Regions from separate parts of the Homo sapiens genome. Here all the other regions are linked to region 4. The links come from fine-mapping of genetic effects on gene expression. A gene starts in region 4. Each other region holds a variant in brackets. All regions are shown on one strand. Distances are from middle to middle. Region 1 has its middle 11 kb from the start of GABARAPL1-AS1. Region 2 overlaps LOC105369656 (a long non-coding RNA gene). Region 3 holds the start of LOC124902875. Region 4 holds the start of KLRD1 (killer cell lectin like receptor D1). Region 5 has its middle 38 kb from the start of GABARAPL1-AS1. Region 6 overlaps LOC124902875.

Region 1 (5,079 bases), 81 kb before region 4:
CTACGTAGAGGTAAGGGGTGGGCTGTGCTAATTACAAATGCAGATGTCTAGGCCATCTCCCAGATTTAGCTGACTCAGAATCTCAGCGTTAGGTGTCTAATTTTTAACAAGCTCCTGATATGACTGCTGCACACTGAAGTTTGAGCGTCATTGCTTTTTGCACCAGGTTTTGCTGTAGGTCCCAACCACACCTTACTCTCTCCATCACAACTTGGTCAGTCTGAAGCCACCATCTCCCAAAGCAGCAAATAGCACCTAGGCAAGGCTCCCGGCATCAGAACAAGCTTGGTGTCTTCTGACCATATGAAAGTCTTGTTCAGTTATTCAGGAACGAATATGTGGGTGGGCTTTGAGCATGCAAGTTAAATGAGAGAATGGAAAACAGATTAGTGAAAACTTCTTTCATGAAAAACCTTAAGACCCATCTCTAACCCTCTCTAATCTCTTGCAGTCATATCCCCAAGTGATGTCTACCTCTGTAGAGAGTTAGGGAATATATCAAGGTCACCAAAAAGGAAGTAGGAAGTTATAAAAGATCCATGCCAAGCAGCACCACATGCAGAAAATTATGTAAGATTACGGAATTTTGATGAAGGCATTGAAAATGGACACTTGTCCCTAATGACAAAAATATCAAGGTGCTGTTCCCTGATAAAGCCAAAAGGAAGCTAATATTTGAGTTTAAGATGTGAACTGTATTTTGAAACTAACAGATTTATCCATGACCTAGGAATGAGACTGGATGAATATTTGAAAGAAAGCAAAAAACACATGGCGGCAGATCCTAACCCTCTGTACACATCTGAAACAGTCCCTGTAGGGCAAGAGACTGTAGGCCATTGCTAAACCAAAGAGATCGTTTGAATTTAGGGGCTGTGTCTCTCCCAGGTAGGCTTTGCTTATTGTAGGCCTACTTCCTGGATTTTCCTAAGGAACAAATTTTGTCCTTGGATAGGACATTACATATCATTTTCGACAAGCTGTCTGATTTTACGAAACAGTGGAGTTTTTAAATAACAGCCAAGTTCAGAGGCAAAGTCACACCAGCTGTTGTGGAAGTGTGTCCGGAATTGGTGGGTTTTTGGTCTCACTGACTTCAAGAATGAAGCCGCGGACCCTCGCGGTGAGTGTTACAGCTCTTAAGGTGGCGTGTCTGGAGTCTGTCCCTTCTGATGTTCAGATGTGTTCGGAGTTTCTTCCTTCTGGTGGGTTCGTGGTCTCGCTGGCTCAGGAGTGAAGCTGTAGACCTTCGCGGTGAGTGTTAACAGCTTTTAAGGTAGCGCGTCTGGAGTTGTTCGTTTCTCCCGGTGGGCTCGTGGTCTCGCTGGCTTCAGGAGTGAAGCTGCAGACCTTCCCAGTGAGTGTTACAGCTCATAAAAGCAGCGTGGACCCAAAGAGTGAGCAGTAGCAAGATTTATTGCAGAGCAAAAGAACAAAGCTTCCACCTTTTGGAAGGGGACCCAAGCAGGTTGCCAATGCTGGCTGGGGCTGCCTGCTTTTATTCTCTTATCTGGCCCCAACCACATCCTGCTGATTGGTAGAGCCGAGTGGCCTGTTTTGTCAGGGCGCTGATTGGTGCATTTACAATCCCTGAGCTAGATACAAAGGTTCTCCACGTACCCATCAGATTAGTTAGATACAGAGTTTCCACACACAGGTTCTCCAAGGCCCCACCAGAGGAGCTAGATACAGAGTGTCCATTGGTGCATTCACAAACCTTGAGCTAAACACAGGGTGCTGATTGGTGTGTTTACAAACCTTGAGCTAGATACAGAGTGCCGATTGGTGTATTTACAATCCCTGAGCTAGACATAAAGGTTCTCCAAGGCCCCACCAGAGCAGCTAGATACAGAGTGTCGATTGGTGCATTCACAAACCTTGAGCTAAACACAGGGTGCTGATTGGTGTATTTACAATCCCTGAGCTAGACATAAAGACTCTCCACGTCCTCACCGGAGCAGCTGGATACAGAGTGTCGATTGGTGCACTCACAAACCTTGAGCTAAACACAGGGTGCTGATTGGTATATTTACAATCCCTGAGCTAGATATACTCTCCACATTCCCACTAGACTCGGGAGCCCAGCTGGCTTCACCCAGTGGATCCCACACCGGGGCTGCAGGTGGAGCTGCCTGCCAGTCCCGCGCCGTGCGCTCGCATTCCTCAGCCCTTGGGTTGTTTGTTCCTTCCCGGTCGATGGGACTGGGCGCCGTGGAGCAGGGGGTGGTGCTCGTCGGGGAGGCTCGGGCCGCACAGGTGCCCATGGAGTGGGTGGGAGGCTCAGGCATGGCGGGCTGCAGGTCCCGAGCCCTGCCCCGCGGGAAGGCAGCTAAGGCCCGGCGAGAAATCGAGCGCAGCGCCGGTGGGCCAGCACTGCTGGGGGACCCAGTACACCCTCCGCAGCCACTGGCCCGGGTGCTAAGTCCCCCATTGCCCCGGGCCAGCAGGGCTGGCTGGCTGGCTGCTCCGAGTGCGGGGCCCGCCAAGTCCACGCCCACCCGGAACTCCAGCTGGCGCGCAAGCGCCCCACGCAGCCCCGGTTCCGCTCGTGCCTCTCCCTCCACACCTCCCTCCAAGCTGAGGGAGTGGGCTCCAGCCTTGGCCAGCCCAGAAAGGGGCTCCCACAGTGCAGTG[G/C]GGGGGCTGAAGGGCTCCTCAAATGCCACCAAAGTGGGAGCCCAGGCAGGGGAGGTGCCGAGAGCAAGCGAGGGCTCTGAGGACTGCCAGCATGCTGTCACTTCTCAGCAGGCTGGATTGGATTTGGCACTTCTTTACTGAAGGTCAGTTCTTCTCAGCGCCGCTTCCATGTTTTCTGCTAGTCAAGCTTTTAATGCTTCTTTGTGCCGTCAGGCCATTGTGAGGCTTGTCATGAGCTAAAAGTAGTTTAAGAAGCCCTTCGTTAACCTGGCCCAGTGTTCCATGTTAAGATTAGTTAGATTGTTAGTTAGATTGGCTTACTCTGATTGACTTGCTTCTCTCTGGGGATAAAGGTTGAATGATGTGTCAAATGAGATTAGGGAGGCCAGTATGACATGAACATCAAAGATGAGTGAGTCCTTAGCTCTTCCATACACTTCGGTAGAAAGATTTCAAATATATGTAGGGTAAGCATACATCTTAAGTTTGCCAAAGATAGTCTTGAATTATGCCGGTTGTCCTGATTGATTTATTAGTGGTTCCTTATTTCACTGTCACATGACCCCCCCCCCCCCATTGGACGAAATATGTGGTCACTCTCTATGTAGTATAAACATTGAAGCCTCTTCCATCAAGAGAGACACAATGCCTGTGCCATCCAGGTTTAGTGCTCCCCAGTATGGGTCTTACCCTGTCAGGTGGAGGGAGACTAGACAAATCATTCTACTTGTGAATGGCAGTCTATTCTGCTTTTCTTGATTTTTCCCCCAACCCTGACTTGTTTTCCTCTTTCAAAGCATTGTGCTTTCAAAGCATTGTTAAATTTTTTTACTGTATTGTGCAATCAGAAGTTAAGATCGCAAAAGAACAAAGCAAATTATGATTAATGTACAGTAGTAACCAGGCAGACAAGATCACTGCCTCATGCACTGCCTCATCACTATAAAATATGAATAGAGCCCCCCCAGAGTGGTGCAGTGCAGTCCCCTGGTCACTGCAGTGGCCCTTTGGACACAAGTCTTGTCAGTTACAGTTGTCTTGAGAGTGTTACACTTATTAAGCTTACAATTCTGCATTCTATTGGTACTGGTACCATCAGATAGAACAGGTGTGTTGTAATTTTGAAGTGGTGTGTGGAGGGGGGCCATGCATATCCACCTGCCCGTGGGTACAGCATCAAGTCAGCTGTAATAATGACAAATTCAGTCATTTTGGAAAATGAACTAGTTGATAAATTCATATTAGTTCTTATACAAAATTTGTAATTAACTATTTCTAGCTGTGGTTTCTTTTGGATGTTTTTGCTTTGCCAGATTTAAACAAGCTACAAACATTTATTTAACTTTAGTTATTTTTAGCTGCATGAAACTACCAAATATTTCAGAAACAAGTCCATTTTGCCTTTGGTGGTTCTGAGTCCAGGCTGTCTGAGTAATGGAGAATTCCCTCCTCACCTATGCCCACTGCCCAGCGACCCACCCCTTTGTTTACCTTTGATAAGTAGCTGAACAACAACAACAAAAAGTCCACACACACAAATACTAGAATCCCTGTTCCAAAAGCTGTGACTGATGATCTCAGCTTGGTTACCCTGTGTAGGGCCCTGCCTCATTTTCTTTTCCTTTTTTTTTTTTTTCCTCCTGGTTGTGGGCACTTCTTAAGTATATGTACCCATGGCTAGATTATTTTCAGAGTTTGAAATAACAGGAAGTTATCACCCTTAAAAGTAGTCAAATGACATTTCACTATGCCATTGTGCAGGTGTGCATGTTTTCAACAGTGACTAACAAAAGACAAGTCATTCTCCTGGTGTGTTTTCATCACGGTGGGGCCATCTATTTCAGTAGTTCTGTTTTCAAAAGCAGTGTATTTAAGACCCTTAGGACTTCTGTTTAGAAGTACTTAGCTCCTAAAACTTGAATAAAGTGATCCTGAACTTTTGGGTGAGAAGTTGAAACATGTTTTCTATTTTTACACTTTTAGTAGGCTCAAAGTTGCTTCATACCATTCAGTAAAAGAATGATGATGGCTTTATTGCTTCTTTAAGCAATATGCACATGGTATTCAAAGGATAAAAGTAACAATAAGCCATATTTTACGTGCTAAAATTGGCTAGTTCCTAACCTCCTTCAAGTCTTAGATACTATGTCAAGGAGACCAACTCTGAACATCTCTAATATTCAACACCTTCCCCCTACTTCCCTTTCTCCTAGTCATTCTCAACCTTGGTCTTTGTCTTTTTTGCTTCGTAGTGATCATGTAACATAATTTTCTAGTTTATTATGTCTTCTCTCTCTAGATCCTGAGGTGCAGGAAGGCAGAAACTTTTTGTGTAGTGATATACAACAATTGGTCAGAACAGTGAATGGCATATGGTTGGCATTCAAAAATATTGAAATAGTAGTTTTTGATAGGACTGAACCACTAGGCAACTTAAATTATCCA
Region 2 (5,079 bases), 22 kb before region 4:
CTAATTCATAGAAGCAAGGAGCAGAATAGTGGTTACCAGGGACAGTGAGGAGCGGAGAGTGGGGATAAGGTTTTAGTAATGCAAAATGAGTAAGCTCTAGAGATCTGCTGTACAACATTGTGCCTAGACTTAACAATATTGTATTGTACATTTCAAAATTTGTTAATAGAGTAGATCTCATGGTGTATTCCTATCACAATAAAATAAATATTAAAATTAAATAAAACAGACCAGTACATAGCATGTGTGGTCACTGCAGGAGATAAAGCCTGAAGCAGAGAGGGGAAAGACAAAATAACAGGCTTCTCCCCTCTTCCTACCTTCCAAATCTCAACCCAGTGGCTCCATTGACTCCACCTACCTGGAAGCTGGTTAGCCATGGAGGTGGTGAAACATGTGTTGCAGGAATCAGCACCCCAAGAAACAAGCAGAACAGGGGAAAACCAGGGAGGACAAAGAGAAAAGTGACTGACAGAGTGGAAGAAACCAAATCTATCAATGCATAGAACCATTATATTTTGGGAGAGATACTTCTCATACTCAATCAAAAGTAAGACTTGTTGGCTGGGCATGGTGGCTCATGCCTGTAATCCCAACACTTTGGGAGGCCGAGGTGGGCGGATCACCTGAGGTCAGGAGTTCAAGACCAGCCTGGCCAACATGGTGAAATCTCATCTCTATTAAAAATACAAAAAAAAAAAAAAAAATAGCTGGGCATGGTGGTGGGCGCTTGTAATCCCAGCTACTCAGGAGGCTGAGGCAGGAGAATCACCTGAACTGGGAGGTGGAGGTTGCAGTGAGCCCAGATCGCACCAGTGCACTCCAGCCTGGGTGACAAGAGTAAAACTCTCTCTCAAAAAACAACAGTAACAACAACAACAACAACAACAAAAGACTTGTTAACACAATATTCTGTGAAGAGATTCAACTTACCTTGTCCAATCTATACATAGGTTTACTATAACATGTGTGTAAAATCACTCAGATAAATTATCAGTATGAAACCACATGTGGAGGGGCTCAGTAAGTGGGGAATAGGTGTTTTGAACAAAGAATTGAGTATAATTTAATCCACATACTGACACAGGAGATAAGTCCCCAGTTCTTTATCCATAAGGCTAAAAACCAAATCTCTGTAAACAAAATGTTTTCATTAGTTTGGTTCCAAAACCTGAACTTAGCTAATCATAGTTTTTGTTTTATACATTTTGCTGTGGAAATATTAATGTGCTGGGTTATAGCGTGAATCATCAAATGCCAATGAGGCTGTTAATTCATGTATGTATAAACACATATATTTTAAAATAAAAACTAATAAATTTTAAAGTACATTTCTCTCCACAAATTTCAGATAAGAAATTAGGGTCTCTGGGCCAGGCACAGTGGCTCACACCTGTAATCCCAGCACTTTGGGAGGCCAAGGCGGGCAGATCACCTGAGGTCAGAAGTTCGAGACCAGCCTCAACGTGGAGAAATCCCGTCTCTACTAAAAATACAAAATTAGCCGGGCATGGTGGTGCATGCCTGTAATCCCAGCTACTCAGGAGGCTGAGGCAGGAGAATTGCTTGAACCTGGGAGGCGGAGGTTGCGGTGAGCCCAGATCGTGCCATTGCACTCCAGCCTGGGCAACAAGAGCGAAACTCCATCTCAAAAAAAAAAGAAATTAGGGTCTCTGTATCCTACACATCATTTAGTTTCCACTTAAAAGTTTTTAGATGTATGGTGAGAGAACTATATATAAAAGAACAATCTATGCCCTATTCCTGTGAGATTTCTCTTCATTATCTGGCTCTACTGATGTTGCCAGTGTACCATGCTAGCAATGTTGCATATTAACCTGGAGTAAAATATCATTTCTGTATTTTCAAAATTCTTTACTACTATTTATAAAATAAATTCTTACCTTTAGATTGTGTTGTTGCTAAAATTGAAATTTAAGTAGAGAGTCGTGTGACTGATAAAAATGGGTTCCTTCTTTTAAAAACAGTCTGTAAAACCACAGCCAGTCAAGTCACGTTTATTCTAGAAATTATTTTTGCCATATGCTAGTTTTCTTTTCCTCTCATGTGAACCATCTTTATGTCTAGTCTGAAAAATTCCTGTTACAGTCACCATTCTGTCATGATAAGGGTTCTGAAATAACTCAGGGACAAACCATTCCTTTCTTTAAGCTTCCAATATGAAATAAGTCCTTTGTGTATCAATAGTCACCAGGATAATTTTTCACATGGTTTTATTTAACATCTTTCTTCATGGTACCTTAAAGTTGTTTTTTTTGTGTGTCTTTACCTGCCCATTATTTCCACCTACAAAACACGCTATCTCTAAGCACATTATCCGAAGAAAATTCCAGTTAAAAATCATCTCATAGAAAATATGACTAGTATTTACAGTCCAGTCAATGCTTTATGATTCTTATGTTATTTTTTCTTTGTGATTGACTCTTTCCTATTCCCTCCTCTTCTCTTAACAGGTAAATATTGTCACAGCTCTAAGTTTAGTAATGTTTCCTATGTTTACACTTGCTGGAATAACAAAAATAGCGCAGCTACAGTGCTAGTGATCAGCCACATCCATGCTTGTAAACCTCAGTTCTGGTCTCTTCTCTCCTCCTTAAGCTGTGTCTTCTGCTTTTTGCCCAGGTAAATTGCTTCAACTCCCAATATTGTTTGCAACAGCATCTTACTGTTTTCGCCAGACACGCCATTTCCTCTACCCATTACCCA[T/C]CCACTTTATCCCCAACATCCTGCGGCCACACCAAGACCAGTGTAGGTGTTAACTGTTATTTTAGGCAGCAGCAACTCTGTGGTTGGAAACATTCTGTACCATACGGTGTGATGTGTCAGCCACACCTGTTACACATAAAGTGTACTGATGACTGAGGTCTCACAGGGGTCCAGGGTCATATCAGAGTCCGGAGATTTCCGTGAAAGCTTAAAGTTCAGTCTGCAAACTCACTGTAACTAATAATGAATAGCTTATGTCCTATCTACCTCAATATGTTTCTTAATGGTTTTGAGCACTAATTAGGTGTTAAATACCCTATATGTTTATACATTAAACCATTCTCAGAACATATTTCCAATAAACTATTTAGTTGCATTTTACGTTTTACACATGATGGAAAAGAATCTTAAAGGGGTTATGTAACCTACTCAAGTTTACGATCTACCAAAAGCAGAATCAAACATTTGAAACTACTCACTTTTGACATCTTGTATTTAGCAGATTGAAGAAGCAGAAAGAATAATTACCTGATAAGGATTGATTAGAAATTAGTTTTGAATGCAAAATAGTCTTTGAATCATCATTTTATTTCGCTTATGGTGCTTTTTTTTTTTTTTTTTTTTTTTTTTTATAGAGACGGGATCTCACTTTGTTGCCCAGGCTGGTCCCAAACTCCTGAGATCAAGTCATGCTCCCATCTTGGCCTCCCAAAGTGTTGGAATTACAGGCATGAGCCACCGCATCTGGTCCCGTAACTGTTTACATTCAGTTTTGTTCTTATAAAGAACCTCACTGGGCACCAGGTGCAGTGGCTCACACCTGTAATCCCAGCACTCTGGGAGGCGAGGCAGGGGGATCACCTGAGGTCATGAGTTCGAGACCAGCCTGGCCAATGTGGCAAAACCCCATTTCTACTAAGAATACAACAATTAGACGGGCGTGGTGGTGCGCCTGTAGTCCCAGCTACTCAGGAGGCTGAGGCAGGAGAATCGCTTGAACCCGGGAGGCAGAGGTTGCAGTGAGCTGAGATTGTACCACTGCACTCCAGCCTGGGTGACAGAGTGAGACTCTGTCTCAAAACAAAAACAAAACCCTCTTTTTTTTTATTGTTTATCTGTTTGTGTTTTTTTGATGATTAAAAACCGTGGTGAAACTGTACCTAAAAGCAAAGATGGATATGCATTGTAAGGCACAGGTTTGAAGTTAGACAGCCATGGGAGAATGCAAGGGTATGTATGAGATTGGTATAGTCAATAAGTATTTGCTGGTATTTGTTTCATACACAAATACATGCATATATACAAATAACTCCGAATTTTTTTTTATTTAACACTCAGACCTCTCACAGATAGGTTGCAAAAAAATGTTATACAAATAATGAGAGCATTTCCTCCCATGAAACCTAACTTCAAACAAATCCAAATAAATTCTAAGTTTTAAAAAAGACCATCCATTTTGGTGCCAACATCCTTTTCAAGTGAATTATTTATATACTGAAGTATTATAAAACCTATAAATAGATATTGTTATATATAAACAGATACTTTTACGAATTAAATTATGCTTCTTAGAAGACAGAAGCATGAAATGGAGAAACGAGGAAATAAAATATGTAACTAAAAATTTGCTAGGACTTTAAAAACCACCCCTAGGTTATACAAAACTACGGGGATAACTTAGTTTAATTATCTGTCTAAATACGGATTTTTACCTCTGTAAGAAAGATCAGGCCAGGCGCAGTGGCTCATGCCTGTAATCCCAGCACTTTGGGAGGCCGAGGCAGGCGGATCATGAGGTCAGGAGATCGAGACCATTCTGGCTAACATGGTGAAACCCTGTCTCTACTAAAATACAAAAAATTAGCCGGGCGTGGTGGCGGGCGCCTGTAGTCCCAGCTACTCAGGAGGCTGAGGCAGGAGAATGGCGTGAACCTGGGAGGCAGAGCTTGCAGTGAGCCGAGATCGCACCACTGCACTCCAGTCTGGGCGACAGAGCGAGACTCTGTCTCAAAAAAAAAAAAAAAAAGTACAAAAATTAGCCAGGCATGGTGGTGCGTGCCTGTAATCCCAGCTACTCAGGAGGCTGATGGAGGAGAATCGCTGGAACCCAGGAGGTGGAGGTTACAGTGAGCCGATATTGCGCCACTGCACTCCAGTCTGGACAACAGAGCGAGACTCCGTCTCAAAAAAAAAAAAAAAGAAAGATCAGTCAGTACATAGTCAAGTACGTGTGCATGCATATATATGCATATGTATACATTATGTAAATATGTTGTAATTATTATATAATAAACCTACATTCAATATATCTGTGGCAATTTATCTATCTAAATTTGAACAAAAACTAAAAAT
Region 3 (5,079 bases), 33 kb before region 4:
CTGCAGTAAAATTGGAAATAGAAGCAAGAGTAGAAATATTCAAATTAATTTAAATGCCTATTTCTGCCTCCTCTTATAGTTGAATTTAATCCTAATGAAAGGAGCATGAAAAGCCGTTATCTAATTCTCACTAAATAAATTCCTTCCACAACATATTGCATGTATTCCTTCAGTACAAGTGAAGCAGAACTCATAGACACCAAAAGTCAATGACATTCACCAAAAGTCAATAACATTACCCTAAATAATATTAAACCTAGTGCAACTGTAAATATTTACTTACCAAACTATAATTTTCTGAGATTTAAGTCCCCTCTAATTAGAAAATCCTGAACTCATTTATAAAGACAAAAGATTTTCAAATCCTCCTCTAAAAGTACCTGGTTATGAACTCATTATTTTTAATATTATTTTCTCATCAAAAGAAGAGATGATTTAGCAATAACAGCAGAATCTGGTTTTACCTGTATTTATTTCATGAAATGCCACTGGCGAAGGTTGAAGATCATGAGAGAGCCTGGACAGTGCTGATGTCTCTGGTTCCATTGTTCAGATTAAATTGTAAGGGCCAATGAGCACAGGGTCAGAATGAGATGGGACCAAGGCAACAGAAGTCTTAATATTGCGACATCAGAGAGGATGTTTACAGTAAGGCTAATATGTAAACTATGTTTTTGACTTAAGAAAATTAAAGATAATGTACTCTTACAAATTAAATTTGTTTTTTCTTTTATGTATGATGAACCACTTTTTTATTTCTAAAGATAAAATTTTAAATATTAACCATAAAGATTTCCTCTTTGCCTTAATTGCTATTTTTTTAAAATTAGAAAACAATAGACTAAATAACGTAATATAAATAAATGACATTGCATTTGAATGATTGTAACAGATACGGATTTTCAGAAATACCTTTTTTGTGATTGTAAATATTTATGCTCATTGTAGATGATTCAGTTGAACACAACATACAACCCTATTCCCTCGATATAATCTCTAACATAATTATTCACAGCTTTATCTAATTTTTCAAATGACCAATGGATGTTTCACTTTAAAAAGTAAAATAACTGTCAAATTAAATAATGAAAACAATTAGTACTTATTTCTATAATAAAATTTTTACAGTCATTAAACATAGATGAGATAGCTTTTCAGGTATTTATGTGGATAATTTTCCATGATACATTAAGTGGAAAAAAGTAAAAGTATTACATAGTATAACTTTATATTTTGGTAGAAAGAATTCTATAATTATATGTGTGTTTGTAATAGAATAAGATTATATGTCTGACCTGAAAAGATTGTAATGTAATAATATTTTGGTCATTAACTTGTTAAATTTGTATTTTTCATATGTGGTTTTCTATTTTTGTGTTACTGTTTCTGATGAGCATAATTTGTTTTTATCATTGAAAGGACTAAAGTGTGCATATGTGAAATTTCTTTTATAGTCTAATGTATGCTCTGAGACATACACACCACAGTAACCACAGGTCAACTGCCCTCTCCTTTGATGGATAGAAATAAACTTCATAACAAAAGCATATAATTTCATTGGCAGACTATGGAGCATTGTTGGGTCTTAAGTTGTTTTGGAAGAGTGCAAAGATGATGATCAACTTCAGATATTAATAATTCATATATACATGGATTAAATTCTAGAGTGAGTAGTAAAATGATGAAAGTATAATTTCAAAAATTACAGAAGAAAAAATAGATTGAGAAAAATACGTACATTCAAAAGAAGTTATAAGGGTGGGTGGAGTGGGGGAGAGATGTAAGATCAGGCAAGGACAAGTAGAAAGCATAAATTTATGTAAATTATAAAAAATCAGACATATCAACAGTAAAGGTAAACTCTGTAAATGTTCCAGGAAAAACAATTAAAAATTATCACAATGGGTTCTTAAAAATTTTTAAATGTTGGCCAGGCATGGTGGCTCATGCTTGTAATCCCAGCACTTTGGGAGGCCAAGGTGAGTGGATCATCTGAGGTCAGGAGTTCGAGACCAGCCTGACCAATGTGGTGAAATCTCGTCTCTACAAAACACAAAATTAGCTGGGGGTGGTGGTGCATGCCTTTAATCCCAGCTACTCAGGAGGCTGAGGCAGGAGAATCGCTTGAACCCGGGAGGCAGAGGTTGTAGTGAGCTGAGATCGCGCCATTGCACTCCAGCCTGGGTGACAGATTGAAACTCCATTTCAAAAAAAAATTTTTTTTTAAATGTTACAGGTTATTTACAAAAATTACATCTAGTAGATAAGGATGTGAAATGGTTGAAAATAGAAGATCAACATTTATGTAGTGCAAA[C/T]ATTAATCAAACCAAAGTATCATAGCTCCTGATATCTGACAAAACACACTTTAAGGAAAAATGTAGTAAGAAGATGGGTCTTTTAATAATAATCAAAGTTTCAATTCAACAGTAGTATATCACAATTTTAATATAACCCTTTAACACAATTAGATTAAATTGTGCTACCTGGAGGCGTTTGTCTAAACTGCCATATGTTTAATTTCTTTTTCATGCTGTCTCTTTGTCTCTATGGGCTGTGTTTTGAAAAATGACTTCAGAAATGTCATTCAATTCATTAATTCTCTCTTCATCCGTGTCTAAGTAGACATTAAATATATCCAATATATTATTTTGTCTTTCAAAAAATTATATTTAGTTCTTTTACAACTCCATAAATTTATGTATTTTAAAGAGTTTTTTGTTTTCTAAACACATTTCCAAATTTGTCTTATGTTCCCTTAACCATGGTAAATATAATTAATTTATACCATGTGTCTGATTATTGAGGTAATGGTTGTTTTGTATCTTTTTCTTTTTTGGAGAAGGAGTGTTGCTCTGTCACCCAGGCTGGAGTGCAATGGTGTGATCTCGACTCACTGCAACCTCCACCTCCCAGGTTCAAGCGATTCTCTGCCTCAGCCTCCTGAGTAGCTGGGATTACAGGCGTTTGCCACCACACCCAGCTAATTTTTGTATTTTTAGTAGAGATGGGGTTTCACCATGTTGGTCAGGCTGGTCTCCAACTCCTGAACTCAGGTGATCTGCCTGCCTCAGCCTCCCAAAATGCTGAGATTATAGGCGTGAGCCACCGTGCCTAGCCGTTATTTTGTATCTTCTGTCTTTTTTGTTCCTACTGGTTCTTTTTCGGGTACTTTGCTTGTGTGCTTAGTTTTTTATTTGTTTCTAGCTCTGAGTGTCTCATCTTTCTCACTAATTTATTCATGGTAAATCATTAAGCTTGGGATGAAATGGGTTGTTCTAGAGAACATTACAAATTAAGTTTGTATTTTCTCCTGCTAGGTGACAAGAAATATTACTAATTTAGACTATTTTAAAATGAAATCTTGACCTGCTGATCTTTTTAACCGGTGGTGGTGTTAATGCAACCTGCAAATCCACATGATGTCTGGCTCCAGAGATACTATTTCAGGAAGAAAATGTTCTTTCAACCATCGGGGGAAGCTGATTTAGTTTAAGTTTACCTTATCCGAAGCATGTAGTTAGGGTTAGGTGTTGCGGGAATTGTTGAGTTACTTGAGAAACCAGGTATTCAAAGTTCACAGTTACAATGGAATGTTATTTTAGTCATACCTCTAATATCAAGTGAGATAATATGCAAAACTGCGTTTGTATATCCTCCACTCTTTTTAAGATAAACTTTTATGATAATAAAAATTACCAATTAGATAAATCAATTAATATTTTTCCCTCTGAAATATGACAAACATACAGGAAAGGACAGAAAACATATATGTAGAGATTAATGAATAATGATAAAAGTTAAGTAAAGATAGATATTACCACACCCCAGAGTGTTTCCTGCATTGATCCTCCTTATTACAATGCTTCCTCCTAGAATTAATCATTCTTCTGATTTTCTTGCTTCTTATGCACATATTCTTAGTAGCTTTTTTGCTTATTTTAATTATATTTGTGTGAATAGAATGAAACTATACTTTTTTTGCATTGTTTTATTCTGTATTTATTAGAGTTATCTGTGTTGCTGTGGACAGCTGTAGTTTACTTGTGTATGTAATTTCTTTGTATGATATACTCTCAATCAGTTTACTTACTCTACCTTTGATGGACATTTAATTGCTTTCTTTTCAGGACTATTATAAATAATAGTCCTTGGATGTTCTCTGTATTTCTTAAATTATCACCTCACTACACTTGTAATCTATATTTAAAATTATAATATGTTTTCTGTTCTTGTGCTTTGTTTGTTTGGATATTTAGTGACTAGGTCGGTATATGGGTATAAATGTTTATAAATTTCTCTAGGGTAGCCTTTGACATTTTCTGTTTATCACAGCCTTTTAGTATCTTTATCCTTTTGGCCTTTGCTCACTTCCTGTAAGAGAGATGGTTTAAGGGCAGTGATCAAAATTTGAAAATAACAACAAAATATCTTGGTATTGAGAATAAGAAATTTTTCTTTTTCTTTTTTTCTTTTGAATCGGAGTTTCGCTCTTGTTGCCCAGGCTGGAGTGCAATGGCATGATCTCTGCTCACCACAACCTCCCCGTCCCAGGTTCAAGCGATTCTCCTGCCTCAGCCTCCCGAGTAGCTGGGATTACAGGCATGTGCCACCATAAAATTTGACAAAAAAAAAAAAAAAGTAAAATAATGGTCAATTTCCAGTGATAATCAAGGTGAAATTTGAGAGCCTGATATGAATTAGCACCAGGAAGTTTGACCTCTATCCTCAGAATATGCAATCTGGACACAGAAAAAGAGAAGATGAAGTTTCTTTTTAAAAATTTTAATTATTCTTTTCTGCATACTTAGTGACAAGAGATGATGAAATTTAATTTAGCTGCATGCCACAGTTAATTAGGCGTATGTAATGGAAAATAAGAAATAAGTGGAAACAAAATCATTCAGATGACTCACCATTAAGTCTAGTTTTGTGTGGTTAGGGCATGGCAGTAGCAACAAATGAGAAAATAAAAGTCAAGCCTGAAGAAGAAATTAAGCAGAATGAATGAAATAAATACAAAGGCAAATGTTGGCCTCACAGAGTTTTTTTTTTTTTTTTTTTTTTTAGATATTTGATATT
Region 4 (5,079 bases):
TGTTATTAGCATGTTTACAATGAGATTTTACCAGGTCAGTAACGTCTTTTGTTTTTTCTCAGGGAGCCCTCTCTCTCTGTTAAAAGAATAATTTGCAGCCTGATGTGAGCAATTTTCTTTCCGCTCAAAGAATGCATTTTCTAAAAGCAGTGAGATCAAAATAAATTTTTCCCTTGGGGATACTAGAACGTATACTGTTATTTTGTTCTGCAACATTTTAGTTATACATTTTTAGGTAGGGAAAAGACTTCACTGTTTATATGTTAAGTGAACATTAGTTTCTTTTCCCTGGCTTTTGACTAAGGTTTAAAAGTTGACTTAGCTATTGAAGTCATCACTTGCTCTTACCAAGGGCACTAGTAAATTGCAGGGGAGGAAGAGGGCATCTTCCTGCAATGGATACTAGGGGATGGAAAGTCCTGCAAAGAGAGACGTTCTTTTGGCAGGATACCTAACTTTTCAAAAGCAAATTTATGTAAGTGAAGCTGGATATTTCAGCGGAATTTAGTCTGGTTTCTCTCGGCAGCACACTCAGAGAATACTTTGAGTAGAAACTTTATTTGGAATTGTGTATGCAATAAATGTAGGAAAGGAAATGTAATAGGAAAGGGAAAGTGGAACGCAATAAAGGTTATTTTCTTAATCTAGCTTCTAGAGGAGGTGACTGGAACATAACACTATTGAGTAATTCTGGGAACTGGGCAAAACACAATGTTCAGAATTACCTGACTTTAGGGCTGAGACTGCTGGACTGTATAGCAAATCACAAGATTCGTTTGTTGACGCCCATTCTGGTGATGATTATTCAGCACTTCCGGATTAGCATGTCTGAGAACAGCAAGGCTTTCAGCAGTTATTGGAGAAAAAAAGAACCCATAGATACAGCTATACAGATAACTAGTTGGCCATAGTTCCCCAAATATTCCAAGGGACATAGGCGAGGCAATGATAACTTCAGGAACAAGTGGAGATGAGTGGGAGAGATACAGTACATGGAAATCATTCACCTGTCTACGTACAAAAATAAATAGAAAGAACAGAGGCCGGGCACGGTGGCTCACGCCTGTAATCCCAGCACTTTGGGAGGCCGAGGCGGGCGGATCACGAGGTCAGGAGATCGAGACAATCCTGGCTAACACGGTGAAACCCCGTCTCTACTAAAAAAAAAAAATACAAAAAATTAGCTGGGCGTGGTGGCGGGAGCCTGTAGCCCCAGCTACTCGGTAGGCCGAGGCAGGAGAATGGCGTGAACACGGGAGGCGGAGCTTGCAGTGAGCCGAGTGAGCCACTGCACTCCAGCCTGGGTGACAGAGACTCCATCTCAAAAAACAAACAAACAAAAACAAACAAAAAAAGAACAATCAGAGTTGGCAGCTCAGAAAGAGTTAAAGAGGTATATACATATATGTTTACTGTGTGTGTGTATGTGTGTGTGTGTGTGTGTGTTTAGGTATCTTAAATATTTAAGCCTGGAGTTCTTGAAGTAAACTTGTATTTGTTGGATTTTTATTTCTAAGTCAGTGAACTAAGATGAAAAAAAGGACAATGACTGATGGACGTATTCTCACCAAACAGGGTTCTAAAAACTTAGAACCTCTAACTTCCAAATAAAGGTGGTTGTGTTAGTAATGAAAGTGTAGTAATAATCCCTATTGCACATTCTGTCATAAATTTGTACTCTCTCAAGAGAAAAACTAAAAGCAAACCCCTAATCTCCTATATTTTGAGGCAATTTTACATGGGGGAAAAATAGTATCAGACAGGTTTCTTCCAGACCAGCTTTTTCTAACACTAAAAATGAATAGATTTCAAGTAAGCAAAGGATTTTTAAATAAATCACTTCAACTAAGATTTGCATACAGTCTGGATGAAGTAGATTTTACGCTTATATTCTTCAGTGAGGATTTATAGCTCAACAAATTTGTTGGTGCAATGAAAGCAGCTCTAGGCACACAATGCAAACTGAAAAGATGGAAAGTTTTGACTTCATAAAAACTGAGAAGTCAAAGTAGTCTTTTCTTTCATTTTTTTCTGTTGTTGGTTGAAAGCCCATCTTTTACAAAAGGGTTTATCTATAGTAATATTATAATGCTTGAACATAAACAATATACAAAATATAATACACAAAACGTTTATTTGAGTGTCTGCTTTTGTATGGGGGTGCATGGTAGATTGTATTTCCAGATACTAAATCATGGATCGAAATCTCTCCTTTCAAGATTCTTATTATAGCCAATCTCTTCCACATTGGAAATTTGACCTGTTCCACATTTGATATTCCTATTAACAAGGTTACTCTTCTGTAGATGAAAAAGTGTATATCGAAGTATCAGTATAGTATCTGAATTAGATAACACACTAAACAATATAATAATGTATTAGTAAAAATAAGGAAAATAAAGAAGCTGAAGTCGTGCTTAAAGAACTTTAAGAAAATGAAAATTGAGGTGTTGAAAAAAGCTTTTAAGGCTAACGTGAATGAGGCGTCCAAGTGGGAAACCCATCCAGTTCTACTTTTTTGAACTTTGCCTGTCGTGGCCAGGATAATTAGGTAGAGATCAGAAGAACAGAGTGAGACATGGAAATCCCAATTTATGTGACCTTGGGCAAATTACTTAGCTCTGTATGCCTCAGTTTTCTCTTTGATAGATTGAAGATATTTATATATCTTTACTATCAAGCCATTTACAGAAATAAATGAGCTAAGATATGCCAAGTGCTTTAAATTGTGTTAAGTACAAGGTAAATAATAAATGTTTATTATTAAAAGAGGAAAATTCTGTAAGTAATTTTGTTATGCTAAGTAAATTTACCTTTGGTTTGCCCATCATTTCCTTCATTTTCCAGATAACCCTTTAAAATGAATTTGATTTTCAAACAATAAAAAACAAAACAGCAACAAAACTCCCTCTGACCTCCTCTCACCTTCTTTAGTCCTTGCCAAAGTGTTAATATTGCAAAAGTACTGTGAGAATTTCCTGTATTGTGGTTCCTGGAACACTTCAGAGGCTTGTGATTCTACTGCTTCTTATTCACACTATAATACATGTCTCACCAATAGATGATTCAAGAACATCATTTAAATACACAATTTTTCATTCTCTATTTTTGCTAAATTTCTTCATACTCAACTTTCAGATTCTTTAATCTCCAGCTCAGCTTCAACAATTCAACGCTGTTCTTTCTGAAAAAGTACACATCGTGCCTTCTCTACTTCGCTCTTGGAACATAATTTCTCATGGCAGGTATGTGTGATTTCAGTCACTAAATTAAAAATAACCAGAAAAGCTATTTCTTGGATTGGCTGATTTTGGGGTAATGCTTTAAGAGAAAAGGACATGATTAACAGTGGATGTTTTTAGGATTTTCATGCATTAGCACTTTCCACATTCATTATATTTTCCTGATTCTTCATTGTATAACTTAGACATGATTTCATGAAGTTTTTTCCACAGGTTTGAAGAGTGGTTTCTGACAGGGCTACCTTTAAATTCTGAGTGAGAACTGAACTTTAGCCTGGTTAAATTGTGAGCAACAGTGTTCTAGTATAGCAATAGAAAATGCCAAATATTAATGACACAATGCTGAAAAGGTTTTAATTGACTATTTATGTTGTGACATCCAAAAATTACACAAATGAACAGTTTGACACATTGTACTGTTGTTAATGACATCACTCTTTGAGAGTGTGTTCACGTTAGCACAGAATCTCCTAATGTTGAAATGTTTTAGGTGAAAGGCCTAAAAGCAAGTAATTTTGAGTATGAACAAATGGAATGTTCTAGGGGAAAAAGGATTGTTTATGTATGTTCAATATACTGTGAAATGAAGCCAGGCCTCAAAGTTGTTACCCATCAATTTGTTATCAGTTATCACACCAAGTCCAGAATGTTCCTATGTCTTCTTTTCCCTATAATATCTCTACGAACCAATGAGCAGCTAGACATTTATCAGAGCAAAACCTGCACTGAGATGAGGAGAGGGCATACTCTCAACTAGTATTATTGTGACAATGGTAGACTACGTTGAATGAAAGATTCTTGAGCTAGACACACTTTCATGTGATTTCTGACTTGGATACTTACTTGCTTTGATACCTTGAGAAAATAACATTATTATTGGACCTTATGTTTTCTCATCTATGTAATGAGAACCATACTATCTATCTTGTGATTTTGTTGAGAGAATAAAAATAAATGCCTGTTATGTAAGTCCATAAAACACAACGTGGTGCTTGTTAATATCTTCTACCTCCAGATCTTTAAGCACCTCTGCCAATTTAAAATAAATGGTAAATTCACTTTACTGCAACAGAGCTGGTAGAGAAGAAAATGTTTGAATAATCTTCCTGAAGAATAAGATACATCACATAAAAATGTTGGTATTGGGTGAAGTCCCGATTGGAAAGTCTTCAGTGTTTTATTGGCAAGATGACTCCGTTATCAAATGAAAGAATGTTGTGGATTCTCCGTCACTAGTTTCTGCTTTTAAGAACTCAGCTCCTGAGTTTGCTCTTTAAGTCATTACTCTGTCTGTCTTTCTCTACAGTGTTTAAGACCACTCTGTGGAGGTTAATTTCTGGGACCTTAGGGATAATATGCCTTTCGTTGATGTCTACGTTGGGAATTTTGTTGAAAAATTGTAAGTTTTTCTAAGCAAGTCTCCATAAAAATCAAAACTGTGAAGACATCATTTAATAATAAAGGCTTCATCTTGCTAATGTGTAATATTTTAGTATTTCATAAACCCATACCTAATTAAACAAATTTCTAATCATTTCTTATAGCTTTTACTAAACTGAGTATTGAGCCAGCATTTACTCCAGGACCCAACATAGAACTCCAGAAAGGTAGGTCACATTTTTTGGAAAACTTAGCATTGGTAAAAGATTAAATAGGCAGTTTCTTGTTTTTCACACAGAGAGGCATGATGGAATATTATACTTAGTAATAGAAATTTGCCTACCAGTGTAGGATAGTCTCATTTTACATTGCTCAATCTAATGTAAAAATGATTAAATTACACTGAATGTGTATCATTTGTACATTTAACTAATCAGGAAAATAGTAGCCTGAAACG
Region 5 (5,079 bases), 54 kb before region 4:
TGATTCTCCTACCTCAGCCTCCAGAGCAGCTGGGACTACAGGCTCCCGCCACCATGCCAGGCTAATTTTTGTATTTGTCCCAAAGTTTTCTGCTTGACCTAGATAAAACTTGGGTATTAATTTATCAGTTACCTTTTAAACACATTTTAAAATTTACATTTGCAACACCCCTTTGATTATTAACTTCCATTATATGTTGAGGCAAGTCAGTACGAAGTGGTTTCAAAGTCACATAATACTTTAAAAATGGATAGCGTATTAAGGTAATATAAAGGGTCTTGGGTCTGTGAAGCTAGAGAAGATCCAGACCAGGAGAAAGTCTCAGGTATTTAAGAGCATGTTTTCTGGTTAAGGAAAGGATAATTGAAAGCAGCCGCAAGTGCCATGTTTCGTTCATTTACCATCATTATCAACGACTTATTTAATGTAGTCATAATTTTGTAATCGGGATTTCTGAAGTTCCATAAACTGGAGCTAACATATGTTGCCTCACTAGCATTAACTACAGATGTTAACATACTAACCTTTCACTCTGGAGTTTGGGACAGTGAGTGATTATTTGTTATTATACTATTTTCTTTTTGAGATGGGGTCTCACTCTGTTGCCCAGGCTGGAGTGCAGTGGTGCGATCCTGGCTTACTGCAACCTCCGCCTCCCAGGTTCAAGCAATTCTCCTGCCTTGGCCTCCCGAGTAGCTGCGATTACAGGCAAGCACCACCAAGCCGGGCTAGTTTTTGTATTTTTAGTAGAGATAGGGCTTCACCATGTTGTCCAGGCTGGTCTCAAACTCCTGACCTCAGGTAATCCTCCGGTCTTAGCCTCCTAAAGTGCTGGGATTACAGGTATGAGCCACCATGCCCAGCCCTTTTATGCTATTTCTTTGGCAAACACAAAAAGGAATGGTCTGGTCCAGTGGTCCCCAAACTTTTTGGCCCCAGGGACCGGTTTCATGAAAGATAATTTTTCTATGGATGGGAGCAAGAGGGGGATGGTTTGGGATGGTTCAAGTGCGTTACATTTATTGTGCACTTTATTTCTATTATTATTACATTGTAATATATAATGAAATAATTCTACAACTCACCGTAATGTAGAATCAGTGGGAGCCCTGAGCTTATTTTTGTGCAACTAGATAGTCCCATCTGGGGGTGACGGGAGACAGTGACAGATCATCAGGTATTGGATTCTCATAAGAAGCACACAACCTAGATCCCTCGCATGTGCAGTTCACAACAGGGTTTGTGCTCCTATGAGAATCAAATGCCTCTGCGGACCTGACAGGAAGCAGAGCTCTGGTGGTAATGCCAGCAATGGGGAGTGGTTGTAAATATAGGTGAAGCTTTGCTCACTCATTCCCTGTTCACCTCCTGCTGTGCTCCAGGTTCCTAACAGGCCACAGTACCGGTCTGTGGCCTGGGGCTTGGGGACCTCTGGTCTGGTCAATTACACATTTCTCCTGAATTCTGGAGAGACAACATACCAGTTCCTCAGAGGAAACAAAGATTTTCTTAAAAATCACATCAAATTAAATTACTGCTTTTTGCTTATTGAAGTGGATAATCTTACTCTTGTTTTTGTCATTGAAAAGACACTAGGCCAGGTATGGTGGTTTACACCTATAATCCCAGCACTTTGGGAGGCTGATGTAGGTGAATCCCTTGAACTCAGGATTTTGAGACCAGCTTCAGCAACATATTTATGTTCTATAAATGTATGTTCTATAAATAATACAAAAATTAGCTGTGTGTGGTGATGTGCAGGTGTATTACGTATTTTCTATAAATAATACAAAACTTAGCTGGGCGTGGCGATGTGCACCTGTAGTCCCAGCTGCTTGGGAAGCTGAGGTGGAAGAATCACTCAAGCCTTGGAGGTTGAGGCTGCAGTGAGCTGTGATTGCGCTACTGTACTCCAGCCTGAGCAACAAAATGAGAACTTGTCTCCAAAAAACAAACAAACAAACAAACCCCACCACATTCTCAAGTTATAAGAAGTTAGTTCTTCTTCCCTCATGTTACTTAAGATTTGAATTCATGATTGTATAGAATCATTAGTTGTCTTAAACAAGCAAGGGCACTAAATGAATGACCATTACAGGGAAGACAGTAGATTCCATGAGAGGATGTGTCTTGAGAATGTATATGAACATGAAGACTTCATCTTTGAGAAAGAGGAATAACTTTCAGAGGAAGGTGATTCAAGTGAACCAAGACATGACACTGAAGAAGAATGGTGGGGGTGGTAGGGAGTAAAACTATCGCAGCTGTGTGTACACAAAAGGGAATGAACCAGGGTTGGGAGTGCAGTGGTGTGAGTTGTGACTTGGGCCTAGAATGCTTGATTGAACATAGCATTACTGGCTTTGCTGTCCTGAGTGAGTCAGTGGGCAGTTGTAAAAAAAAAAAAAAAAAAGATGAATAATTTAACTTTTAATAAACAAAGTTTGACAATCCTCTGCATAAAACATTTCTTATCTAATGCTTTTAATATTTTTTTATCACTAGTTTTGAAGAACTTAATTATAATGTACATGTAAGTAGATTTTCTTATGTTTCTTTTGCTTGGGGTTCGTGGACTTTCTAGATCTATATGCTTATAGTTCTAGCAATTTGGAAACATTTCAATTTCAGTATTTAAATCTCAGTTTTCAACTGTAAGTTCTTTGAATACTTTTTGCCCCCTCCTATGTATCCAGAGACTGCTTTTAGGCGTACGTTGGGCCCCTTGCAGCTGTCCCGCAGGTCACTGATACTCCGTTCATACACTTTTTAAATGCTCTTTAATGTGTTTCATTTTGTTTAGTTTTCATTGCAATGTCTTCGGATTCGGGCATCTTTTCTTTCACAGTGTCTTTTTTTTCTAACTTTT[A/G]TTTTAGGTTTGGGGCTACCTGTGAAGGTTTGTTACATGGGTAAACATGTGTCATGGGGGTTTGTTGTACAGATTATTTCATCACTCAGGCATTATACCCAGTACCCAATAGATACCTTTTCTGCTCCTCTCCCTTCTCTCACCCTATCCCCTTGAGTAGACCATGGTGTCTGTGATTTCCTTTTCTGTGTTCATAAGTTCTTATCATTTAGCTCCCACTTATAAATGAGATCATGAGGTGTTTAGTTTTGTTTCTTCATTAGTTTGCTAAGGATAGTAGCCCCCAGCTCCATCCATGTTCCTGTAAAAGGCAGGATTTCATTCTTTTTTCATGGCTGCACAGTATTCCATGGTGTATATGTACCACATTTTCTTTATTCAATCTGTGATTGATGGGCACTTAGGTTGAATTCAAGTCTTTGCTATTGCGACAAGTGCTGCAGTTATCATTCACATGCATGTGTCTTCGTGGTAGAAGGATTTATATTCTTCTGGGTATATACCCAGTAATGGGATTGTTGAATTGAATGGTAGTTCTGTCTAAAACTATAAAAACGCTGGAAAACAACCTAGGCAATACCATCTTGGACACAGACAGGAATGGGCAAAGATTTCGTGACAAAGACACCAAAAGCAATCGCAACAAAAGCAAAAATTGACAAGTGGGATCTAATGAAACTTAAGAGCTTCTGGACAGCAAAAGAAACTATCCACAGAGGGCAGGGCATGGTGGCTCACGCCTGTAATCCCAGCACTTTGGGAGGCCGAGACGGGTGGATCACGAGGTCAGGAGCTCGAGACCATTCTGGGTAACGTGGTGAAACCCCGTCTCTACTAAAAATACAAAAAATTAGCAGGGCGCGGTGGAGGGCGCCTGTAGTCCCAGCTACTCTGGAGGCTGAGGCAGGTGAATGGCGTGAACCCGGGAGGCGGAGCTTGCTTGCAGTGAGCCGAGATCGCGCCACTGCACTCCAGGCTGGGCGACAGAGCCACACTCCGTCTCAAAAAAAAAAAAAAAAAAAAACCTATCAACAGAGTAAACAGACAATGTACAGACTGGGAGAAAATATTTGCAAACTATGCACCTGACAAAGGACTAATGTATATCCAGCATCTCGAAGGAACTTAAACAAATCTACCAGAGAAAAACAAACAACCCCATTAAAAAGTAGGCAAAAGGCTGGGCGTGGTGGCTCACACCTGTAATCCCAGCACTTTGAGAGACTGAGGCTGGTGGATCACCTGAGGTTAGGAGTTTGAGACCAGCCTGGTCAACATGGTGAAACCCTGTCTCATGTAAAAATACAAGGAAAAATTAGCCAAGCGTGGTGGCGCCTGCCTGTAATCCCAGCTACTCTGGAGGCTGAGGCAGGAGAATCACTTGAACCCAGGAGGCGGAGATTGCAGTGAGCTGAGATTGCGCTACCGCACTCCAGCCTAGGCAACAGAGCGAGATCAGTCTCAAAAATAAATAAATTAAAAAAAAAAAAGAAAAGTAGGCAAAGGACATGAACAGGCACTTCTCAAAAGAAGACATACTTGTGGCCTACAAGCACATGAAAAAAGCTCAACATCGCTGATCATTAGAAAAATGCAAATCAAAACCACAATGAGACACTGTCTCACATCAGTCAGAATGCCTATTATTAAAAAGTCAAAAAATAATAGATGCTGGTGAGGATGCAGAGAAAAGGGAATATTTATATACTGTTAGTGGGGGTGTAAATTAGTTCAACCCTTGTGGAAAGCAGTACGGAGATTCCTCAAAGAGCTAAACTGCAGTGTCTTATATCTACTAGTAATTTGAGGACTTTTAAAAATTATTCATTGTAGCTAAAGGTTTACTAATATTGTTAATCTTTTCTAAGGTCCAACTTTTGGCTTTGTTTATTTTCTCTATTTTCCACTCTATTTTATGTACATACCTTCTAGTATTTATTGTTCATTTGGCTGGCGTTGGGTTTAATTTATTTTCCTTTTTCTAGTTACTTAAGGGATGAAGTTAGGTTGTTGGTTTAAGATGTTCTTTCCAATGTATTTAAAGATATAAATTTGCCTCTAAGCACTACTTTTGTTGCATCCCGTATGTTTTGGTATGTTGTGTTTTTATTTTCATTAGCTTTAAGATATTTTCTAATTTCCCTTGTATTTTTTCTTTGACTCATTGGTTATTTAAAAGTGTTGTTTACATTCTAACTAATTTTCAAATT
Region 6 (5,079 bases), 46 kb before region 4:
CCTTGAATGTTTAATTCATGTCTTCACTTGTCACTGAAAGAAATAGAGAGTGAAGAACAATATGAAAATGAGACTCTTAATATGACTTCTTCACACAAATGCATATGGCTATCTTTCATTAGAAAAAGAGGTTGAAAAAATATATATTTATGCTTTCCCAAACTCTAGATATATACACCAAACCTTGGGAAAAGGGAATCTGTAAGACCTACGAAGAAGCCAAAGAAACTTAGATCATTTGTAGCAAAAGGAGCAATGAGCAGAGATAAATAGAATTAGTCTGCAAGCAAGACTTAGTTGATGGGAAAGAGAAACACTAGGAAACTGTGATTCCGAGGTACCTGGGGATGCTTCTACTTTTGAGATCAAAAGCATTTATTCTGTTCTGTAATATCCACCCTGAGTAACCCATGGCCTCCTGAATATCCACTAAAGACACAGTAGATAGTTCTGGCTAGAATGCCCACAGCCTTCAGTGTAAAATTCTAAGAATTATTCTAATATGCAATTCTTCTTATTGGCTTAATTAAATATTGTTCTAGTGATTGACAATTACTCCATCACATTATTGTTGTTCCATTTTTAAGATGCATTCCTCCATCATCATCATAGTTATGTAGAATATTTTGTTATTATTTTGGTCATTTTCTGAAAGTCATAATATTCATCCTTGACTTATTAATGTCCAATATATGTAGTTACTTTACATTTTCCTAGCCATTATAAGAAATTTAGAGCTTTTTAGTTCTATTTATTATTCTTTTGAGTTAAAATGCAACTCTTTAATGTAAGTGTATGTACTGTAGTAAACTTTAGTTTTATGCAATTAAAGTAGTGGACATTATTTATGGTTTCATATAATTGCTATTCATTTAGACTTACATCTGTATTTACCTATTTCATTGTCTTTTATCCTGAGTCTTTGAGGTCTCATCTGAGATCATTTTCTTAAACCCAAAGAATATTGTGGGCTGGGCATGGTGGCTCAAGCCTGTAATCCCAGCACTTTGGGAGGTTGAGGCAGACGGATCACGTGAAGTTGGGAGTTTGAGATCAGCCTGGCCAACATGGTGAAACCCTGTCTTTACTAGAAATACAAAAATTAGCCAGGCGTTTTGGCACATGCCTGTAATCCCAGATACTTGGGAGGCTGAGGCAGGAGACTTGCTTGAACCCAGGAGGTGGAGGTTGCAGTGAGCCAAATTCATGCTACTGCACTCTAGCCTGGGCGACAGAGTGAGACTCCATCAAAACAAAACAAACAAAACAAAAAAAAGATATTCTTCTAGTGTACTTTCTTAATACAGATATAAAGATATAATAAATTGTTTTTGCTCTACTTAAATGGTCTTTCTTTTACCTATGGAGTATAACTAGATGCTCATATCATTCCCATCTGTATAACTAAATGCTCATATCATTCCCATCTGTATAACTAAATGCTCATATCATTCCCATCTGATGAGATGATTGCCTCTGAGGATAGAATTTTAGTATGGCAGTTGTTGTCAATCAATAATCATATAGCCTTCATTTTCTTTTTCTTTTTGTAGGTTAGCTTCCATTATAATTGTTGCTCCTTTGAAAGTAAACTTTGCTTCTCTTCCTACCTGTAAGTTTCTGTTTGTCTTTTTTTTTCAACAGTTATATATGATACACCTAACTTGTCATTTTATTCACCCTGCTGGAGTTCATAAGCCTTTGATAGTATGTAGTTTGATATTTTCTATCAGTTGTGGAAAATTCAGATATTATCTCTTCTACTCTAGGTTATGGGGAAATTGTGATTTATAAAAACAAATTTTAGGCCAGGCACAGTGGCTCACGCTTGTAATCCCAGCACTTTGGGAGGCCGAGGTGGGTGGGTCACGAGGTCAGGAATTCAAGACCAGCCTGACCAACATGATGAAACCCCGTCTCTACTAAAAATACAAAAAAAAATTGGGCTGGGCGTGGTGGCTCACGCCTGTAATCCGAGCACTTTGGGAGGCCGAGGTGGGCAGATCACAAGGTCAGGAGATCGAGACCTTCCTGGCTAATATGGTGAAACCCCGTCTCTACTAAAAAATACAAAAAAATTAGCCGGGTGTGGTGGTGGGCACCTGTAGTCCCAGCTACTCGGGAGGCTGAGGCAGGAGAATGGCATGAACCCGGGAGGTGGAGCTTGCAGTGAGCTGAGATCATGCTACTGCACTCCAGCCTGGGACACAGAGTGAGACTCCATCACAAAAAACAACAACAACAAAAAACCAAAAAAAAAAAATTTTTTTGAGGTAATAGACCATTAGGAGCAATTGCCTTAGCAAATTCATTGCTCTTTATGTGCATTTTTTGTTTGCTCTTGCTGAAAGAGCTCATTGCTGATGTGTATATACAAGTTCACTTTGAAGCACCGTATGTAGATGAGATGAGAGTAATGCAATTGGAAGAGACTTTCTGGTGTGCTCTGTTGAAAGTTATTCAAAGTGAAGTCTGGCTCAGTAGGGAAGGATGTTGCAATTATGAAGAGCACCTTCTAAGAATACTGTATGGAAATTTTCAGCATATATGCCATAAATTTACCATCATTGATCTGAATTGAAGTCTTTATTAAAGGCAATAACAGAACTTCAATACAATGAAAAAGAAGAAATAATATAGAAGTAATAGTCACATAGTAGAGGAGAACTAAAATATAAAAGACATCTATATTCTTTAGGCTTGCTAGGATCTACTGC[G/A]GGAAACATTACTGCTGTTAATGTCTTTTATTCACATTCCAAACAATAATTAGTATCAAAATAGTCCTTATGAAGAGCTATTATTCTTTTTCTCACTGTTCCTCTTTAGAAGATACATGCAGGGTAGAAAAACGTAAATCTGCTTGTATAAGCAGCTCTGACTATTTACAAAGAAGCAATATTCTTACAATTTGATTCATTATGATTTTTTGTTCTGGGATCAGCAAAGCATAATGACTATGTTCCTGATCTTTAGAGTTAGACTCTTTTAGCTTAAATCATAGTTTAAGCTTCTAATTCTTACTATTTCTGATACCCAGAAAAAAAGTATCATTCTCTCTGGGTCTTGGTTTTCTTATTAATACAACAATGGCAGTGGTAATACTTGTATCATAAGATTAATGGGAAAACACGTGAGTTAATGCCCACAATCATTGATGTAGTACCAGGAATATTTGAAGCAATCAACAAATATTAGCTCTTTTTTAGTTGCCACTTGTGACCAGATTCCCTTTAGTTTCTGTGTCTATGTGATGTTTTCCCCCATTGTTAGCCAACATTTGAAATTTCTTATATTTGCATTTACTTCTGTATGCAAATATATTTAAAATCTAAAATCATTTTAAGGTCATATTTTAATCTTTTGAGTTTGATTGAGATGTCTCCAATTTATAAAATGTTGAGTTTAGCATGCTTAAGTGAACACAATATGTTAAAAATTCTCTATTGATAATTATCTGATGTGTAAGAAAATGTAAGAATGAATACCACATTATACACTTCCAATTCTTCATTATTGGTCTTGATGGGACTGGAGCTCAATGCTTCAGAACAAATTTCCTTGATGCCAAGATTTTATTTTCAGTAGATATAAAATGTCAGTTTTCTTCAAAGGAAGACCAATTACCTTGACAAACAAAAAGAACATGCTAGAAGATAACTTTGTCCCCTACAGTCATTCAGTGAATTATAATTTTTGCATTATTGTTTTCAATTGTCCTCCCTAACTTCAAGAGAAGTCCTGATATACGAGAGTTTTTCTGACAAGTACACCATTGTTAACTAACTTTGGTCTTATATTTACAAAGTGAATATTTACCTAATACATATTTACATATATTTACAAAATACATCTAGATTTAAACAGCTTATGTGTGATAGATACCAACATTCCCATTGTAAACCAATACTTACCTTTGTTTTGTGATATTATGTTGCAATGTGCAGTCTCAATGGTTGCCTTATTCAGGATCTCTTTAAGACAATGAACTGAAATTCACAATATTTGCAAAAGAGAATACTATTATCATTTTCAAACATTTGGGATGGCAAATAAAACAGATATCCAAAATTTCTTACACACAATTTATGCATTCATTGTTTTAATTGAATGAAGAACAAATTGTAAATTATCATTTGCAATTTATATTAAGGTATGAACTTTTACTTATGAAATATATTTATGAGTCAATGACTGGTGATTTAATAAGCACATGTTTGTATATATGATTGATGTTATTCTAAGCAGTTAGTTAACCCAGGCAGTCAGGAAAAAACAACCTATGCTATTTTTGCAGCAAACACCTTAGACGTAGTGTACGTCTAATCAGTCACAAAGTACTGTTTATCACGACAATGCTTCATATATCTGTTTCCTTCTTCACAGTAACATAGCTTTTTCCTACTCAGATTGTCATTATTTTTATGCTGAGCTATTTTAATATTATACAAACTCTCTCTAATTTTCACTTTCCAGTATTTTCCACAAATTGCCTCCAGAGTAAACACCCCCAAAGCATACCTTGAATAATGGTACACTTTCAATCATCTTCAGAGGCTATGAACTATTTATATGCTAAAATTCTAATTCATTAACATTAAAATTATACAAAATTGTACCATTTACACAATTGTACTTTTTCTAACCAGTTATATTTTTAACTACCTTCATATATGAAATCTTTAAACTACATGATTTTGCATTGATGTGTTCTATAATATTTTTATGAATCTGGCACTAGAGATGGCACAATTTGAATTTTTAAAATAAGAATGAATATCCCTAATTTGAATTAATTTTAGTCTTAATGGTCCGTGGTCACGTATAAAAGATTTGGGAGACTTGACATGAATTGTAGAAGAAATCTGTCTGCATTTCTGCTTTACTGAGATCAGATCTGATCCCTGTCCAATAACAAAATCTTATAATATTTTACCCACAAAGTTTCAGTTTAGTCCTGTACAAACTCATGTCCCCATGATTTTAAGTTATCTGAACCATGTTATTCCAGCTTGAGTACCAGATGCATTGCTAGACTCATGGAAATAAATGTCATAAGTATTGCTGAGTCGTTCCCTCGCC

What was found. PIP is the estimated chance that this variant, and not a neighbour inherited with it, causes the effect. A credible set is the group of variants that fine-mapping cannot tell apart.
Region 1: its variant is the best candidate, but not a certain one, in a credible set for the expression of KLRD1 in atrial appendage (GTEx, PIP 0.89).
Region 2: its variant is the best candidate, but not a certain one, in a credible set for the expression of KLRD1 in whole blood (INTERVAL, PIP 0.59).
Region 3: its variant is the best candidate, but not a certain one, in a credible set for the expression of KLRD1 in tibial nerve (GTEx, PIP 0.79).
Region 5: its variant is the best candidate, but not a certain one, in a credible set for the expression of KLRD1 in left ventricle (GTEx, PIP 0.57).
Region 6: its variant is the best candidate, but not a certain one, in a credible set for the expression of KLRD1 in visceral fat (GTEx, PIP 0.57).

What each region holds. Positions count from the first base shown.
Region 1 is chr12:10,223,457-10,228,535 of GRCh38, forward strand. No RefSeq gene overlaps it. Among named protein-coding and RNA genes, the nearest start is that of GABARAPL1-AS1, 11 kb to the left of the region's middle. The variant G/C (reference allele first, on the strand shown) is at 2,635.
Region 2 is chr12:10,283,332-10,288,410 of GRCh38, forward strand. All of the region lies in intron 1 of LOC105369656 (a long non-coding RNA gene), which reads right to left. It also overlaps a transcript of KLRD1 not described here. Among named protein-coding and RNA genes, the nearest start is that of KLRD1, 22 kb to the right of the region's middle. The variant T/C (reference allele first, on the strand shown) is at 2,728.
Region 3 is chr12:10,272,073-10,277,151 of GRCh38, forward strand. LOC124902875 reads right to left here and starts at 590. Exons shown (of 5, transcript XM_047429945.1): 1 at 465-590. The coding sequence starts at 546. It also overlaps a transcript of KLRD1 not described here. The variant C/T (reference allele first, on the strand shown) is at 2,316.
Region 4 is chr12:10,304,840-10,309,918 of GRCh38, forward strand. KLRD1 (killer cell lectin like receptor D1) reads left to right here and starts at 3,031. Exons shown (of 6, transcript NM_002262.5): 1 at 3,031-3,245; 2 at 4,549-4,641; 3 at 4,787-4,849. The coding sequence starts at 3,239.
Region 5 is chr12:10,250,560-10,255,638 of GRCh38, forward strand. It overlaps a transcript of KLRD1 not described here. Among named protein-coding and RNA genes, the nearest start is that of GABARAPL1-AS1, 38 kb to the left of the region's middle. The variant A/G (reference allele first, on the strand shown) is at 2,870.
Region 6 is chr12:10,258,715-10,263,793 of GRCh38, forward strand. LOC124902875 reads right to left here. Exons shown (of 5, transcript XM_047429945.1): 4 at 3,912-3,986; 5 at 2,394-3,624. The coding sequence ends at 3,596. It also overlaps a transcript of KLRD1 not described here. Among named protein-coding and RNA genes, the nearest start is that of GABARAPL1-AS1, 46 kb to the left of the region's middle. The variant G/A (reference allele first, on the strand shown) is at 2,718.